4 linked regions of the Homo sapiens genome follow. The protein of the gene in region 3 interacts with the protein of the main gene of each other region in a pairwise test. Each region holds a gene or a part of one and is shown on either strand. Other genes may lie near its edges.

What was found. The genes of interacting proteins can lie anywhere in the genome.
Region 1: the proteins of STOM (region 3) and AIG1 interact in binary tests that used the Homo sapiens proteins (3 or more experiments, as listed by UniProt).
Region 2: the proteins of STOM (region 3) and PTCH1 interact in binary tests that used the Homo sapiens proteins (3 or more experiments, as listed by UniProt).
Region 4: the proteins of STOM (region 3) and PGA4 interact in binary tests that used the Homo sapiens proteins (3 or more experiments, as listed by UniProt).

Annotation. Positions count from the first base shown.
Region 1 is NC_000006.12:143,067,389-143,070,888, forward strand, and holds part of AIG1 (androgen-induced gene 1 protein), read left to right. Parts: intron 1-3,500. UniProt on the Homo sapiens protein: Hydrolyzes bioactive fatty-acid esters of hydroxy-fatty acids (FAHFAs), but not other major classes of lipids. Show a preference for FAHFAs with branching distal from the carboxylate head group of the lipids.
Region 2 is NC_000009.12:95,446,767-95,450,266, reverse strand, and holds part of PTCH1 (protein patched homolog 1), read left to right. Parts: intron 1-326; coding exon 327-426; intron 427-943; coding exon 944-1,198; intron 1,199-2,815; coding exon 2,816-3,355; 3' UTR 3,356-3,356; intron 3,357-3,500.
Region 3 is NC_000009.12:121,342,751-121,346,250, reverse strand, and holds part of STOM (stomatin), read left to right. Parts: intron 1-3,500. UniProt on the Homo sapiens protein: Regulates ion channel activity and transmembrane ion transport. Regulates ASIC2 and ASIC3 channel activity.
Region 4 is NC_000011.10:61,221,211-61,225,146, forward strand, and holds the start of PGA4 (pepsin A-4 preproprotein), read left to right. Parts: upstream 1-1,136; 5' UTR 1,137-1,190; coding exon 1,191-1,246; intron 1,247-1,732; coding exon 1,733-1,895; intron 1,896-3,936. UniProt on the Homo sapiens protein: Shows particularly broad specificity; although bonds involving phenylalanine and leucine are preferred, many others are also cleaved to some extent.

The DNA of each region.
Region 1 (3,500 bases), on a different chromosome or scaffold from region 3:
AAGGAATTTCAGAAAACCAGAGAGAGATGAGGATAAATAAAGTCTCAGATGTGGAAAAGCTTGGGGTGCTCAAAGAATAGGAAATAGTCAAGTGTACCTGGACGATACCATTTTTGCTTTTAGACATGCTGAGAATTTTTGACATTTAAAAAATGTTAAAGAGGGAAAATAAGCTGCTTAAGTATACTACATTTTGCATTTGAGTTAGTCTTATATTTATTTACATACTTATCATAAAACATATTCTTGTCTCTAGTTCATGACTTAATTTTAAATAGGAAATAAAATACCTTGAGAAGAGATTCTGCATGTCATTATGTAACTATGGTACTTAGTTTTGCCAGTCAAAACCACACATTGCCACGTGAAGGCCAGTAGTTTATTGAGTACTCAGGGAACAAAATTAGGTGGATTTTTTTCTGTTTTTTGTTTTTTGGGGTTTTGGATATTATACAGAGAGTGTAAAATTGCAATTTTTTTCTTCAGGAGACTCAGACTTGACCCTAAAATATGCATATAAACTTGAAGGCTCAAATAATGTTTTTTCCTAACCTGGAGGAAGAATTGTGAGAATAATGCTTTGCATAGAATCCTCTTCACCTTCTTTGCATGTTTCTTTTGGATCAGGCATAAAATAGGGGCCTGGTTTTGTTAGAGTGGGGGAAATAGTTGATGATATAATCACCCATTCCCTCTTAGTTGCAAATGGTATTGAAATTACAGAAAGTCATCTGACCACTAGTTGAGGTCACTTCTTTTCCCATTCCTGCCATTCCCCCATGTCTGGTATAACATTTGGCAAAATTGGTAACTGCTCTTGAGGGTTTTCATTTGTTTCTGTGTGTTCCTCTGAAATGTCATGTTTCTGGGGGAAGCAAGAACAACAGTACAATTTTCCACATTGAATCAGATGTTCATGTGATCCAAGCGTGCTTGGAAAAATCTTACTGCTTAGGATTCTATACAACATAGCTCTCTTGTGCAGTCTGTAGTTAGACAGTTAAAGGGCCCATGCCTCACCTGCAGGGTAGCCCTTCTGAGTGCGGTGGAAGCAGAGCTTTCTTGGAAAGTGAGACACCACTTGATCAGATCCATTGTGGAATTGAACAAGATGTAAGACAGAAGCATGGAATTCTGAAAAGTCAGACAATGCATTAGTGCACTCACATTGTCTTATATTTAGGTCTGTCAGGTTGTGTTATAATTTTAAAAATTAATTTCAAAAGCGATACATACTTATTATAGAAAATTTGTGCAAATACAGGAAACAATAGAAATACAGGGAAGAAAATATAGTCCATCTTAATTCTCCCTAATTTTCCTTGCATCTTAGCATTTTAGTGCTTCAGGATGGTATTTATTTTGGAACTTTAGTACATACAGGAACATAGAGAGACTACAGTATATATGTATATGTGTGTTCATACGTATGTAGTCAGATATCAGAAAAAATCATATTCTTTAAAACTTATTTTAAAATTACGGATATCACTTAGAGATACTGATGTTAGTATTTTGATATTTGACTTTTCAGTCATATATATACTTCTGTTAAAAAAACAAAAAATTCAATATGAACATATGGTTTTTATAAATTCTTCATCCACATACACTAAAATTTATTCCTTTTTTTTTTTTTCTCTTGAAATGGAGTCTCACTCTGTCGCCCAGGTTAGAGTGCACTGGCGTGATCTCGGCTCACTGCAACCTCCATCTCCTAGGTTCAAGTGACTCTCCCGCCTCAGCCTCCCGAGTAGCTGGGATTACAGGTGCATGCCGCCACTCCTGGCTAATTTTTTTGTATTTTTAGTAGAGACGGGGTTTCGCCATGTTGCCCAGGTTGGGCTCGAACTCCTGGGCTCAAGCGATCCACCTGCCTTGGCCTCCCGAAGTATTGGGATTACAGGCATGAGCCACCGCGCGCGGCCAATTTATTCTTTTTAGTATACAATACTGTAAGTTTTGACAGATGCATAGTTTTGATAGATGCACAGTTTTGATAGATGCACAATTTTCCAGAGTGGATGTGCCATGTTGCATTACCACCAGCAATGTGTGAGAGCTCCACAGATGGGAACTCATATTGTATCTTCAGAGTGTGGCGTTGTCAATTTTTCTTTTATTTCAGCCATTCTAATAGGTGTGTAGCACTATCTCATTGTGGTTTTGAGTTCCCCTCATGACTGAAGTTGTTAATTATCTTTTCCTGTGCCTTTTAATAATATATTCATGTTCTTTGTGAAGTTTGCCCATTTAAAAAATACTGGGTTGTTTTATTATTATTAAGCTTTGAGAGGTTTTATGTTTGCCAAATGAAAGCTCTTTGGCAAATATGTGATTTGCAAATGTTTTCTTCCTGTCTGTAGTTTATTTTATCAATAGTGTCTTAAACAGAGCAAAAGTTCATTTTGATGATACAAAATTTACCATTTTTCTTCTTTTTATGGAACCTCCTAGAAGTTTTAAAGTTTTAGGTTTTACATTTTTATCTATAATCCTTTTTTTCTGGTATATGTTGTGCAATTTTCCCTGCACCGTGTCTTGAAAAGATTGTCATTTTGCCATTGAATTACGTTTGCACCTTTGTCAAAAATCAATTGACTACATTTGTGTGTCTGTTTCTGGATTCTGTTCTGCTCCACTGATGTGTGTGTCCCTTCACAGGTACCACACATTGTTGATTGCAGCTTTATAGTAAATCTTCGAAGCAGGTAGTGAGAATCATCTAACTTTGTTCTTTTTCAAAATTTGTTTATGCTATTCTAATTACTTTTCCTTTTTGTTTAAATTTAGAATAATCTTGTTAATATCTACAGATAATTGTACTTGGATTTTTTAGTAGAATTTAATTGAATCTATAAAACGATTTGGGGAAAGTTGGACATCTTAACAATATTTACTTTTCCAACCCATGAACATGACATATCTCTTCATTTATTTAGATTTTTAAATTTCTTTCATTGATGTTTTGTAGTTTTCAGCATATAGTTTGTGCGTGTATTTTGTTAGGTTTATACCTATTTTATTTTTGATTAGTGCTATTGTGAATGGTATTTTTAATTTTTTTTTAGAAATTTTTATTTTCTTAGTCCATTTTGTGTTGCTATCACAGAATACCACAGACTGGGTAATTTATAAAGAAAAGAAACTTATGTCTTACAGTTCTGGAGGCTCAAAAGTACAAAAGCATGGTGCTGGCATCTGGTGAGAGCCTTCTTGATGCACCATAGCATGGTGGAAGGCATCACAGGACAAGAGAGGCATAAGAGAAAGAGCCAAACTAGCTTTTATGACAGACCCACTCTTGTGATAACTAACTCTCCTGTGATAATCTGTTAACACATTAATCCATTAATGGCAGAATCCTCATGACTCAATCACCTCTTAAAAGGCCTTACTTCTTAATACTGTTAGATTGGGGATTAAGCTTCCACATGAATTTTAGAGACAAAAACATTCAACGGCAGTGACCCTTTTATATTTAATTGACATTTTAATTG
Region 2 (3,500 bases), about 26 Mb from region 3:
TCCATATTTTTGTGTTTGTGTAACACATTCATAAATAACATTACATGCCATCAGAGTTCAGCAAATTAACAAACTAATTTTTTTTTTCTTCCCTTCATGAACTAACACTTTGGGTTGTGGAATGTAGTCCTCAAAGTCATAAGGTAAAGAAACAAAAAGCAAAAACTCACCTTGTGTTGAATGTGAACTGCGGTTGGATAACAGCCTTTTCAGTGGGGTGGGTTTTGTTCATTTCTGGCGTTGCCATGCTGCTGTGTCGGGCACACGGAGGGTGGCGCGATCCACCCTGTCACAGCGCGTGTTCCCGTTTCCTCTTGATCTCCCAGGTATTTCTTTGCTGTGCTGGCGATCCTCACCATCCTCGGCGTTCTCAATGGGCTGGTTTTGCTTCCCGTGCTTTTGTCTTTCTTTGGACCATATCCTGAGGTCAGTAGTGACACGGGGATGTCCCACGTGTAGGCCGGCTGAATGCTGTGTTTCCTGTGCCGCTCTTCACTTCGATACTTAGGTGCCTCCCCACTTGCTGGTGGTTCTTCAGTAAACATCTCAGAGTCATGTCTGTTTTCCTCTTCGGTGTACTGGCTTTGAGGGCTAGAGGGCGGGTTCGGTTTGGTTCCTCTAAATCAACTGATTGGCAGCCTGGGTCTTACAGATCTTTATACAGTAAATGAAGACTTTCCCCTTGAGATGCATAATTGGACTTCACAAGAGTAAAAAGTACACATCCTGCCTTTCCAGTGTGGAGCAGAGGACAGTTCTTCTGCTCCAGCTGCGGGACCTGAAGGTCCTCCAGGTGGTAGAGAAGGGGAGGTTAATACGGCACAGTGCGCAGGGCCCCAGGGCAGGGAACAGAGGCCCCTGAAAAATACCGTGCTTTGAGCTTTGAGTGTGGCCAGCAGGTAAATGGACAAGAACACTTTTAACATGGAATCCCCTTAAATAGGTGTCTCCAGCCAACGGCTTGAACCGCCTGCCCACACCCTCCCCTGAGCCACCCCCCAGCGTGGTCCGCTTCGCCATGCCGCCCGGCCACACGCACAGCGGGTCTGATTCCTCCGACTCGGAGTATAGTTCCCAGACGACAGTGTCAGGCCTCAGCGAGGAGCTTCGGCACTACGAGGCCCAGCAGGGCGCGGGAGGCCCTGCCCACCAAGTGATCGTGGAAGCCACAGAAAACCCCGTCTTCGCCCACTCCACTGTAAGTGACTCTGCAGAACCAGGGGGAGGGGTCTTCCCACCGTGGTAGTGGGCCTGGAGGTCCAGCGGGGGCTCCTGTCTGCTGAGCAGCACATCACACAGGCAGATGGGATGCAGAGATAAGGTACAGACTAGGTCAAATCATAGGAAATAACCAGTATTTAACTCTTTCTCAACTATACAAATGCCATCTTCCTGTGGTTTGATCTCATAAAGGATAAAAAGGGCAGGGGCCAGTAATGTCACTGCACAAAGCAGTAGCATCTATCTTGTTCAGGGTGAGGACAGTTTGGGCTTCAAAGGCCAGAGATAAAGCATTCCTGCCTTTTTTTTTTTTTTCCTCTTAAGGTGCATGTCATTTGAGAGTGATATTTTCTAAAACTAGTAGTATTTTTATTGCCAACAGAGGTCAGGTTTTTTCCTTCTCTCATTTCTGTTAGGTTTCAATGCCCTTGATACAACATTCATTATTATTGTCTAAATACTTTACCATAGCTTTTGGGGCTCCAAGCTCATGTTCCAGGTGGCAGGAAAGAGCAGAGAGGCCAAGAACCACCCCTGAGTTCTTAGCCTTCAGTGATTCAGGAGGTCACCAGGAGCCTGGGAGCCCCTCCTCGGAGGCTCCAAGGACCTGGGTCCTTTCCTCCACCCTGTGCTCCCTGGGATGGGCTCAGCCCTGAAAACTCAAGGAAGGTTCTGGGCTGATGTTGCTCCACTGAGGGCCCCCTGCTGTCCCTCCAGGAAATGGGTATTCCAGTCCCAGGCCAGAGCAGCCCTTCCGTGAAAGAGAGAAAGGCCAACCAAATAACCTGAATTGTCCTCCTCCTACCCCCCGCGACGACGCCCGCTGAGCTGCAGTGTGAATCTGGTTTTGTTCAGCAGGAGCCTAAAAATAGGTACAAGCTGAACGACTTTGAAGTTGGTCACGGTCCTTTTGATTGATGTGGCCACTGTGTTGCTCTGTGCTTTGTATAGAGACGCAGAGACCAGATTCTTAACAATCAGATGGAACAGGCTGCCCGCCACAGCCCTCCGCAGTGACGAAAATGCCCTCTCTGCTTTCCAGGATGGGAGCCACCGGCCACACGTGGCTGTGGAGCACTTGAAATGTGGCCGGGGCTACCGAGGAGCTGGATTTTGGATTTTAGTTCATTAAAACTTAAGCAACCACATGTCTGGAGCGGCTACTGTGTTTGACAGAGTAGGCAGAGACAGTCCTGCCAGCGTCCTGCACTCAGGCCAGCCAGGGCCGCACACTTAGCAACTTCGGGAGAGGGGCAGCTCAGAGCCTGCAGAACCTAACAGGGTCGGGGGCAGGTTGTGGGGGGCAGCAGCTTGGATGCTCTGACCACAGCCCACATTTATGGGCAGCAGCAGTACGTGTCCAGCCAGCCGTGTCAGAGAAAGCCTGGAAACAGGATTTTCAAACAACACGCTCCTCCGCCAGGTCCTGGAGGTTATTAGAAGGACAGGCTTTTCTTTTGTGGGTGGAAGGCCCCCATTGGCTCCCCAGGGTTGACTGAGTCTTTGGTGAAACCCAAGGAGGGAAGTGTGGGAGCTGCGGGGACCATGCCCAGCCTGGGATACCACCCTTCTAACCCACCCTCACCCTCTGCAGGTGGTCCATCCCGAATCCAGGCATCACCCACCCTCGAACCCGAGACAGCAGCCCCACCTGGACTCAGGGTCCCTGCCTCCCGGACGGCAAGGCCAGCAGCCCCGCAGGGACCCCCCCAGAGAAGGCTTGTGGCCACCCCCCTACAGACCGCGCAGAGACGCTTTTGAAATTTCTACTGAAGGGCATTCTGGCCCTAGCAATAGGGCCCGCTGGGGCCCTCGCGGGGCCCGTTCTCACAACCCTCGGAACCCAGCGTCCACTGCCATGGGCAGCTCCGTGCCCGGCTACTGCCAGCCCATCACCACTGTGACGGCTTCTGCCTCCGTGACTGTCGCCGTGCACCCGCCGCCTGTCCCTGGGCCTGGGCGGAACCCCCGAGGGGGACTCTGCCCAGGCTACCCTGAGACTGACCACGGCCTGTTTGAGGACCCCCACGTGCCTTTCCACGTCCGGTGTGAGAGGAGGGATTCGAAGGTGGAAGTCATTGAGCTGCAGGACGTGGAATGCGAGGAGAGGCCCCGGGGAAGCAGCTCCAACTGAGGTGAGTGCCACTGACAAGGGCAGCCAAGGGACCTAGAGCCAGGCAAAGAGGAGGACAAGGTTCTCCTGGGGTTCTCGGCATCCCCGAGGGGCTGTGGCGCTCGGGCACATCCCACGCTGGACCCCAGTGACCTTTTATCCCCAG
Region 3 (3,500 bases):
TGGGAGGCTGAGGTGGGTGGATCACCTGAGGTGAGGAGTTCAAGACCAGCCTGGCCACCATGGTGAAACCCCGTCCTTACTAAAAATACAAAGAGTAGCCTGGTGTGGTGGTAGGCGCCTGTAATCCCAGCTACTGGGGAGGCTGAGAAGGAGAATTGCTTGAACCCTGGAGGTGGAGGTTGCAGTGAGCTGAGATTGCGCCACTGCACTTCAGCCCAGGCGACAGAGCAAGACTTCTTCTCAAAAAAATTAAATTAAATAAAAAATTAATAATAATAAAAACTTAAAAAAAAATGAAACTTGTTTGCCATCCCACTATTCAAAGGAAAAATTGAAGCTCTGAAAAGTTAAGTGACGTCCGCAAGGTCGCACAGTTGATTAGTAGCAGTGGAAATTAGAATTCCCCTCTGCTCCTCATTGCCTCCTCTAGTACTGACTTCCCAGGATGGGCTATGAGCCTCTTCCATAGCATTCTTAAGAGTTTGGAAAGAAAATTTCTATCTTCCCTTTATAACAGTAAGAAAAGATAGAAGAAACCGCTTAGAATTCTGAATTGCCATGCTCCCACTTGGACGGGGCTGTAGGGTTAGTCTAGAAGCAGTCTCATGAACCTGGGCAGTGACTGTCTTGGAGTTCACACATAGAATCACAATGAGCCTAGCCCTTCTGTAAAATACAGTAACCCTGCAACAACCATAGGCTTATTGTATTGAAATTCTCATGGAAAATAGGGGGGTCACAGTTTCTTCAACAAATAAATTGCACAGGAAAGGTGAGATAGAGTGGAATAATCTAAAGATTAAGAGACTTTATAGAAAAATTCCTTAGGCTAATTAGCCATCGGGGAAATGCAAATTCACATTATAAGCGGATGTCACACTAGACAGCTATCAGAATGGCCTGAAAAGAACGGAAAAGAACCAAGTGTGGGTGAGAGAGGAACTAGAACTCTCATATTCTGCTGGTGGCAGTGTAACTTAATACAACCACTGTGGAAAACAGTCTGGCAATGTCTATTCATACTGAACATTTGTATACCCTATGAGCCAGCAGCTCCAACTCCTAAGTATGAATCTAACAGAAATGCACTCATATGTTTACCAAAAGGCATGTACTAGAATGTTCACAGCAGCACATTGACCCAAACTGTAGAATACCCAAATGTCCATTCCTAGCTGAATGAATGAAGTCTGGTTTATTCACATGTAGGCATACTACATAGCAAAGAGAATGAATGTAAGTGCTCACACACATAATTTGAGTGAAAGAAGCCGGTCACAGAAGAGGACAGATTCTCCTACGTGTTTCTCTGTATGTTAGGTTTGGTTTTTAAAGTGTTTAGACCAGCTCTTAGTGGCCTGAAATGTAATATCTTTTGTGTTTGCATCAGCTTTTATTTCCTTTTCATAACTCTCAGAAAAACACCTGGCACATGCTTTTGGGCTCATGTTTCTGGGTGTAGAAGTCTATTAATTGAGAGGATGGAGTGCAGAAATACAGATCACCTTTCTCTGCCTTTTCCTCTGCCCAGACCACCTGGTCTGCAGAAGGGACAGGTAGCACCAATTTCACATACATGAAAATGCCAGACTTTAAAATGATGTTCTATAAATATGAAATGTTGATTGCTATGAGATTACTGCACATTCGACAAAAGCCGTGCACACCCACAAATAGCTTGCTTTGCTCTCTAAGATCCTATCAACGGAGTGTACTTGGCCTGTATTTAGACAAAGCCGGTGGTGTTGTTTACATCTTTGGCAGCTTGCTCAGTGTGGCTTTTCTATGAACAAAATGTGTGCCCAGCCCGGTGGGTCTGGCTTCTCAGCCAAGCGATTGTGTATTGATTGGTGGTGGGAAATGAGATATCTTTTCAGTTGGTCCATGTCCAAAGAAAAAAGTGCCTAATTGGACATCTGAGATGATATGGAAAAAATGAGAGCCTGCTGCTCTCATAGCAGGGGATTTCTGATGTATTCTCTGTAGTGCCTACCTTGGAATACAGTTCTGTGGTTTTCTTTGAGCAAAGCTGGCACTTGTCCCTTCTCACAGACCTAGGCAGGACATGATGTGTGGCTTTGATAAATTAAGGTTTTTATCCTATAAGCTGGATCCTTTCTCTCAGTGAGTACTATATTCTGTATCCTATCTCCATTAATGGCACTAATCTATGCAACCAAAACCTGGAAACCTGGGTCTCAGCCTGTGTCCCCCTTTCCTCCTCCTACCTAGTCTCCAAATTCCACTGATTCGCCCTCCTTCGGGGAGGGAGAATAGCTCCCCAAACCATTTCATTCTCTGTCCCCACCACCTATGAATCGCACCGGCCACTCTAAAGCAGTTCCACTAGCAGCTTTCACTGCCTTCTCTTCTAACCTCAGACATCTGTCAGAGAGCTTTTTCAAACTAGATCTGATGGAGTTTACTTACCTGCTTAAAATCATTCTGCAGCTTCCCATTGCCTACAGAATGAAGACCAAACACCCTGGCCCTCACTGCCCTTCAGAACCCGGCCCCATTCATCCCCCACCTTTCCCCTCTTCCTGCCATAGTATTCAGCCATTGACAGTTTTCTGGAATATACCATTTTTATACCTCAGTACCGTTTCATGTGTTCTGCCCAAAATATTCTTCCTCATCTTTTTCTAAACAGCAAACATTTTATCATTTAATATTCAACTTCTATAACCTCACCACGTCACCCTCTGGAAAAGTTGCTTTCTTCTGTTTGCTTGCACTGTGCCTTGTACATATGTCTGTCAGCATTTATCACACTAGAATGAAATGATCTACTTCCATGTCTGCCTTCCCTACCTGACCAGGAGCTGAAGAAGGCTAGGGATTCCACTCTATCCTTAGCTTTTCCTACACAGGGCTTATTAACCCTAGAAGGCCCCCAAATTTTGCTGTGTGAGTGAATGAAATCTCACTGGGCATAAGACCATCACCTCCAATTCTGATATTCATGGAGTATTATGGACCATTAATTATTCAAGATTCAAGTGAGGATAATAACCTGGAGAAATTGTACTTTTAATCTTGATAATTATGGTGTCTTAATACCTTTCCTTCTTCTAGGATTATGAATTAAAGTAACTACCTTGAATCTTTTGTGCATTAAAGCATAGTTGGACCCAAAAATCAGGTCTTGTCACTTGCCATTCCTCTATAATAGCCCCCTTTATTCATTTAACACTTTATATACTTTCTCTGTCTTCCTCACAAGTGGTCCTCTGAAGTACATGTTAGTCTGCTTTAAGAATGGGAAACTGAGGTTCAGGATGTTCAGTAACCTCTCTGAGGACATTCGGCTGGTAAATGTTAGATTTGGGATTTGAACTCAAGTCCATTTGACTCCAGAACTCCTGTTCTGTCTACTACTCGAGTGATCTTCAAACTTTTTTGCCTGTGAAACCCCTTACAGAATTTAGAAAAACTATAAAGTCCATCAAACATTTTAAATCGGCATGTAAAAATTTTTCATCTTGAATTTATGTACT
Region 4 (3,936 bases), on a different chromosome or scaffold from region 3:
GTAGCTGATTTCAACCCAGTTGTAAGCCTGGAGCACCTGGAGAAATCAGACCCAGGTGGGATCTCAAAGGTGGAGAGGGTGGGAAAGGAGCAAAAGAAAGAGAAGCGGTGCAGAAAGGGAGGGACACAGATTCCAAAGACATACCTGGCCTGTCTGAAGTTTGCCTCCTCCAGGAAGGGAAGGCAGCATTCTCCCGGTGCTGTCTCCCTCCTCCCCCGTGTACTGTGCACATCTCCTTCCCAGACTCAGCCCAGTTGCACCAAAAGCAAGCCACAAGGCCCATAGGCTAGTCAGACGCCCAACAACCCCACACAATGACACTTATGTGGGGAATTGTGTCCTGAGTCCCAAACGACTGACCCCCCCAATGTGCTGTGAATAAGCAGTGACCACAACCAGTACCACCTATGACTGAGTCGGGAGGCTGCTCTCTAAGAACCCCAGCTGCATGCCCTCTGGGACAAATCAGGCCACCTGGGGCTCCTTCACATCTCTCCAATGCTGTGTTAAACGCACTTTTAACCAACTTTGTCAAAATGCTCAGCTGGTAAAGTTTTAACGTAGGCCCTTGTCAATGCTTCAGAAATAAGCCTCTGGCGGCGCGACAGAGCAAAACTCCCTCAGGAAAGAAAGGAAAGAAATGGAGAAAGGGAGAAAGGGAGAAAGAGAGGAAAAGAAAGAAAGAAAGAAAGAAAGAGAGAGAGAGAGAGAAAGAGAGAAAGAGAAAGAAAGAAAAGAAAGAAAGAAAAAGAAAGAAAGGGAAAGAAAGAAGGAAAGGAAGGAAAGAAAAGAAAGGAAAGAAAGGAAAAGAAAACAAATAAGCCTCCAGGTCATTGCTTAGAAAGAAAAAGAAAAAAGAAAGAAAGAAAAGAAAGAAAAAGAAAAGAAAAGAAAATAGCCTCCCGGTCATTGCTCCTCTCTCTCTCTGCGGGTCCACCCCCATGGCACCCTCCCCCCTCCCCATGGTGCAAGGTTACAATGGAAAGTGCCTCAGCTGGAAAGGTCTCAGAATGTGGCTCAGGGCAGCCACAATCTTATCAGGAGCTTCTCTGTTTGGGATCAGGGGAACCGGTGACTTTCAGAGGCCGATAAGGCGGGACCCAACTTGTATATAAGGGGCAGCTCATGCTGCTGCTCTGCACCTTCCTCCCATCTTGCCTTCTCCCTCGAGTTGGGACCCGGGAAGAACCATGAAGTGGCTGCTGCTGCTGGGTCTGGTGGCGCTCTCTGAGTGCATCATGTACAAGTGAGTCCGGGTGGTGTGGGTGTGAAGACGCTGCCTCCCACATCACCTTTCTTTCCTCCCGTGTCTTCCTTCTTCCCTTTTTTTTCTCTCTCTCTTCAGCTGTCTCCATCCCCCTTTTCCGCCTCTCTCTCTGCCTTTTTGGGAGGCAGCCCTGCAGACATGGTTAAAACTCGGGCCCAGCCTGACTGTGGTTCCCAGCTCCAGCCCTAGTCAGCTTAACTTCTTTGCATTATGGGGCAGAAGTGGGAGCTTCTCCCTTCCTTCCATCTTCCTCTCTTAGATCAGCTGGTTAAGAGTCCAGCCTGGGTTTGGCTCCCAGCTCCAGCACTAGTCAACTTAACTTCTTTGCATTGTTGGGCAGAAGAGGGGGCGTCTCCTTTCCTTCCTTCTTCCTCTCTTAGACCAGCTTCCCTTCCCTTCTGGGGCTGCCACAGCACCCGGTCAGCAGAATCCTTGCCTAATTCCTCTTCCTTCTCCAAACCACAGGGTCCCCCTCATCAGAAAGAAGTCCTTGAGGCGCACCCTGTCCGAGCGTGGCCTGCTGAAGGACTTCCTGAAGAAGCACAACCTCAACCCAGCCAGAAAGTACTTCCCCCAGTGGGAGGCTCCCACCCTGGTAGATGAACAGCCCCTGGAGAACTACCTGGATGTGAGTGTGCGGGCAAGTGGTGGGGCCAGCTCTGAGGACTTGGCCCGCAGGAAAGAGGGTGTCCCAGGGGTCTTGGAGGACGGGCCTGGGCTCTGTGGCTCCAGGCAGTGACCCAGAGTCTGCCCCCTAGATGTCAGTGGCCCAGGGCAGGCAGGAAAGCTCACAGTCAGAGTTCATTCATTCATTCGTTCACTCGTTCATGCAATGTTAATTTCTCTGAGCGCCTCATTCTATTTCAGGGCCTGTGCTGGGCTCAGGGGGAGACAGCAGTGAGCAAACTCATAGCCTAGGAGACAAACACAGTCATCAAGGGGTCTCGCAAACCAATGAAAAGAACAGGCAGCAGGAGGACTACAGAGTGACGGTGTCACACTGCGAGAGTCTGCCACTTGGGCAGGGAGCCTCCCTGGAGCCACGCAGGAAGAGCAGGAGTTTCCAAGAGAACAAGACAGAACTCCGCATAGCCTGATCCCTTGTGCCAAACCCTGTAGCAGGCGGGAGCACAGTGCCTTTGAAGGGGAGCCGAGAGGGAGGGAAGAAGGGTGCTGCAGACTGCGGTCCGAGGAACTGAGGGGTGGACGCAGAGAGGCTCCATCCTAACTGCCTCTGATTTATCTTAAACAGGGGGATGACAAGATCAGATCTGAGTTTCAGAAAGATCACCCTGACTTTGTTATTTGAGACCCGATAGCAAACACCCTGCCCTCCTGCAGATATTGTATGTCCCCTCTGTGACTGGCACAGGGCACAAAGCAGTGATGCCTGTGGTTCAGAGACTGGCCTCTGCCATCCAGCAGACCTGGTGCAAATATGGGTCCTAGTGCCTCTAAGCCACAGGACCTTGGCCAAGTCATTTAAATACTCTGAGCCTGTGTCTTGGTCTGGAAAACAGAACCACTAATATCTACCGTCAGAGGATGTTGCCAGGAATTAACACGATCATGTTTTCTGGAGTGCTTAGCATGGGGTCTGCCAGGCCCTTGGTAAGAGGCTTAATTAGCGCATTTATTTAGTTCACAAATATTTAACAAATATTGGCACCTCTCTATGTGCCAGAGGCTATGCAAGTTGCCAAAATGATGGTGAATAATCAAAGTTCCTGGAGCTTATACTCTAAAGGGGATAACAAATAAACAACCATGTAAGATAATTTCAGGTAATGATAAGGGCCTTGGCAAATTAATTAATGGGAGCATGGGGAACAAGAAGATTGAGAGGGGGCAAATTTAGATAAAGTGGTCACGGAAGGCCTGTTGGCAGAGGGGACATTTGACTAGAGAGCTGAATGATTGATTTTTGATAAAAGGATCAGCCAAGGAAAGATCTAGAATAAACATTTTCCTAGCACAAGGAATAGCCAGTGCAAAGGCCCTAGGGCAGGAGTGACTGGTCATCGCCAAAGAACAGCAAGCAGACCAGTGTGGCGGGAACAGAGCCGGCAGGGGGAAAATGCTGCCACTAACAAGAAAAATACTGGTTGATTGGCGGAGGCGGGTGGATCACTTGAGGTCAGGAGTTCGAGACCAGCCCGGCAACATGGTGAAACCCCGTCTCTACTAAAAATACAAAAATTTGCCGGGCATGATGGCACACACCTGTAATCTCAGCTACTTGGGAGGTTGAGGCAGGAGAATCACTGGAACCCAGGAGGAGGAGGCTGCAGTGAGCCGAGGTCGCGCCACTGCACTCCCGCCTGGACAACAGAGTGAGACTTGTCTCAAAAAAAAAGAATAAAAATACTGTCAATGCCCTTTCTTGCAACCTGCTATACACATCTAGATGTAGAAATAAGAAAACTGGACAGGTTTCCATCTTTAAGTGGCTTGCTTAGCTTCTGATAAACAATTTAAGGCACAAGCACTTAAGCTGTAACTTGCCCGGTGCTAGAAGGTTCCACCGCCATCCTCTGAGAACATGCGCTGTACGGATGGGAAGACTGTGACAGACAAGACAATGGCTAAAGAGGGAACAGCAGATTGTTAGGTGCTTGTGGTGCTTAACAGAGAGCAGAGGGTAAATTGGGGGAGCAATCAGGGAAGAC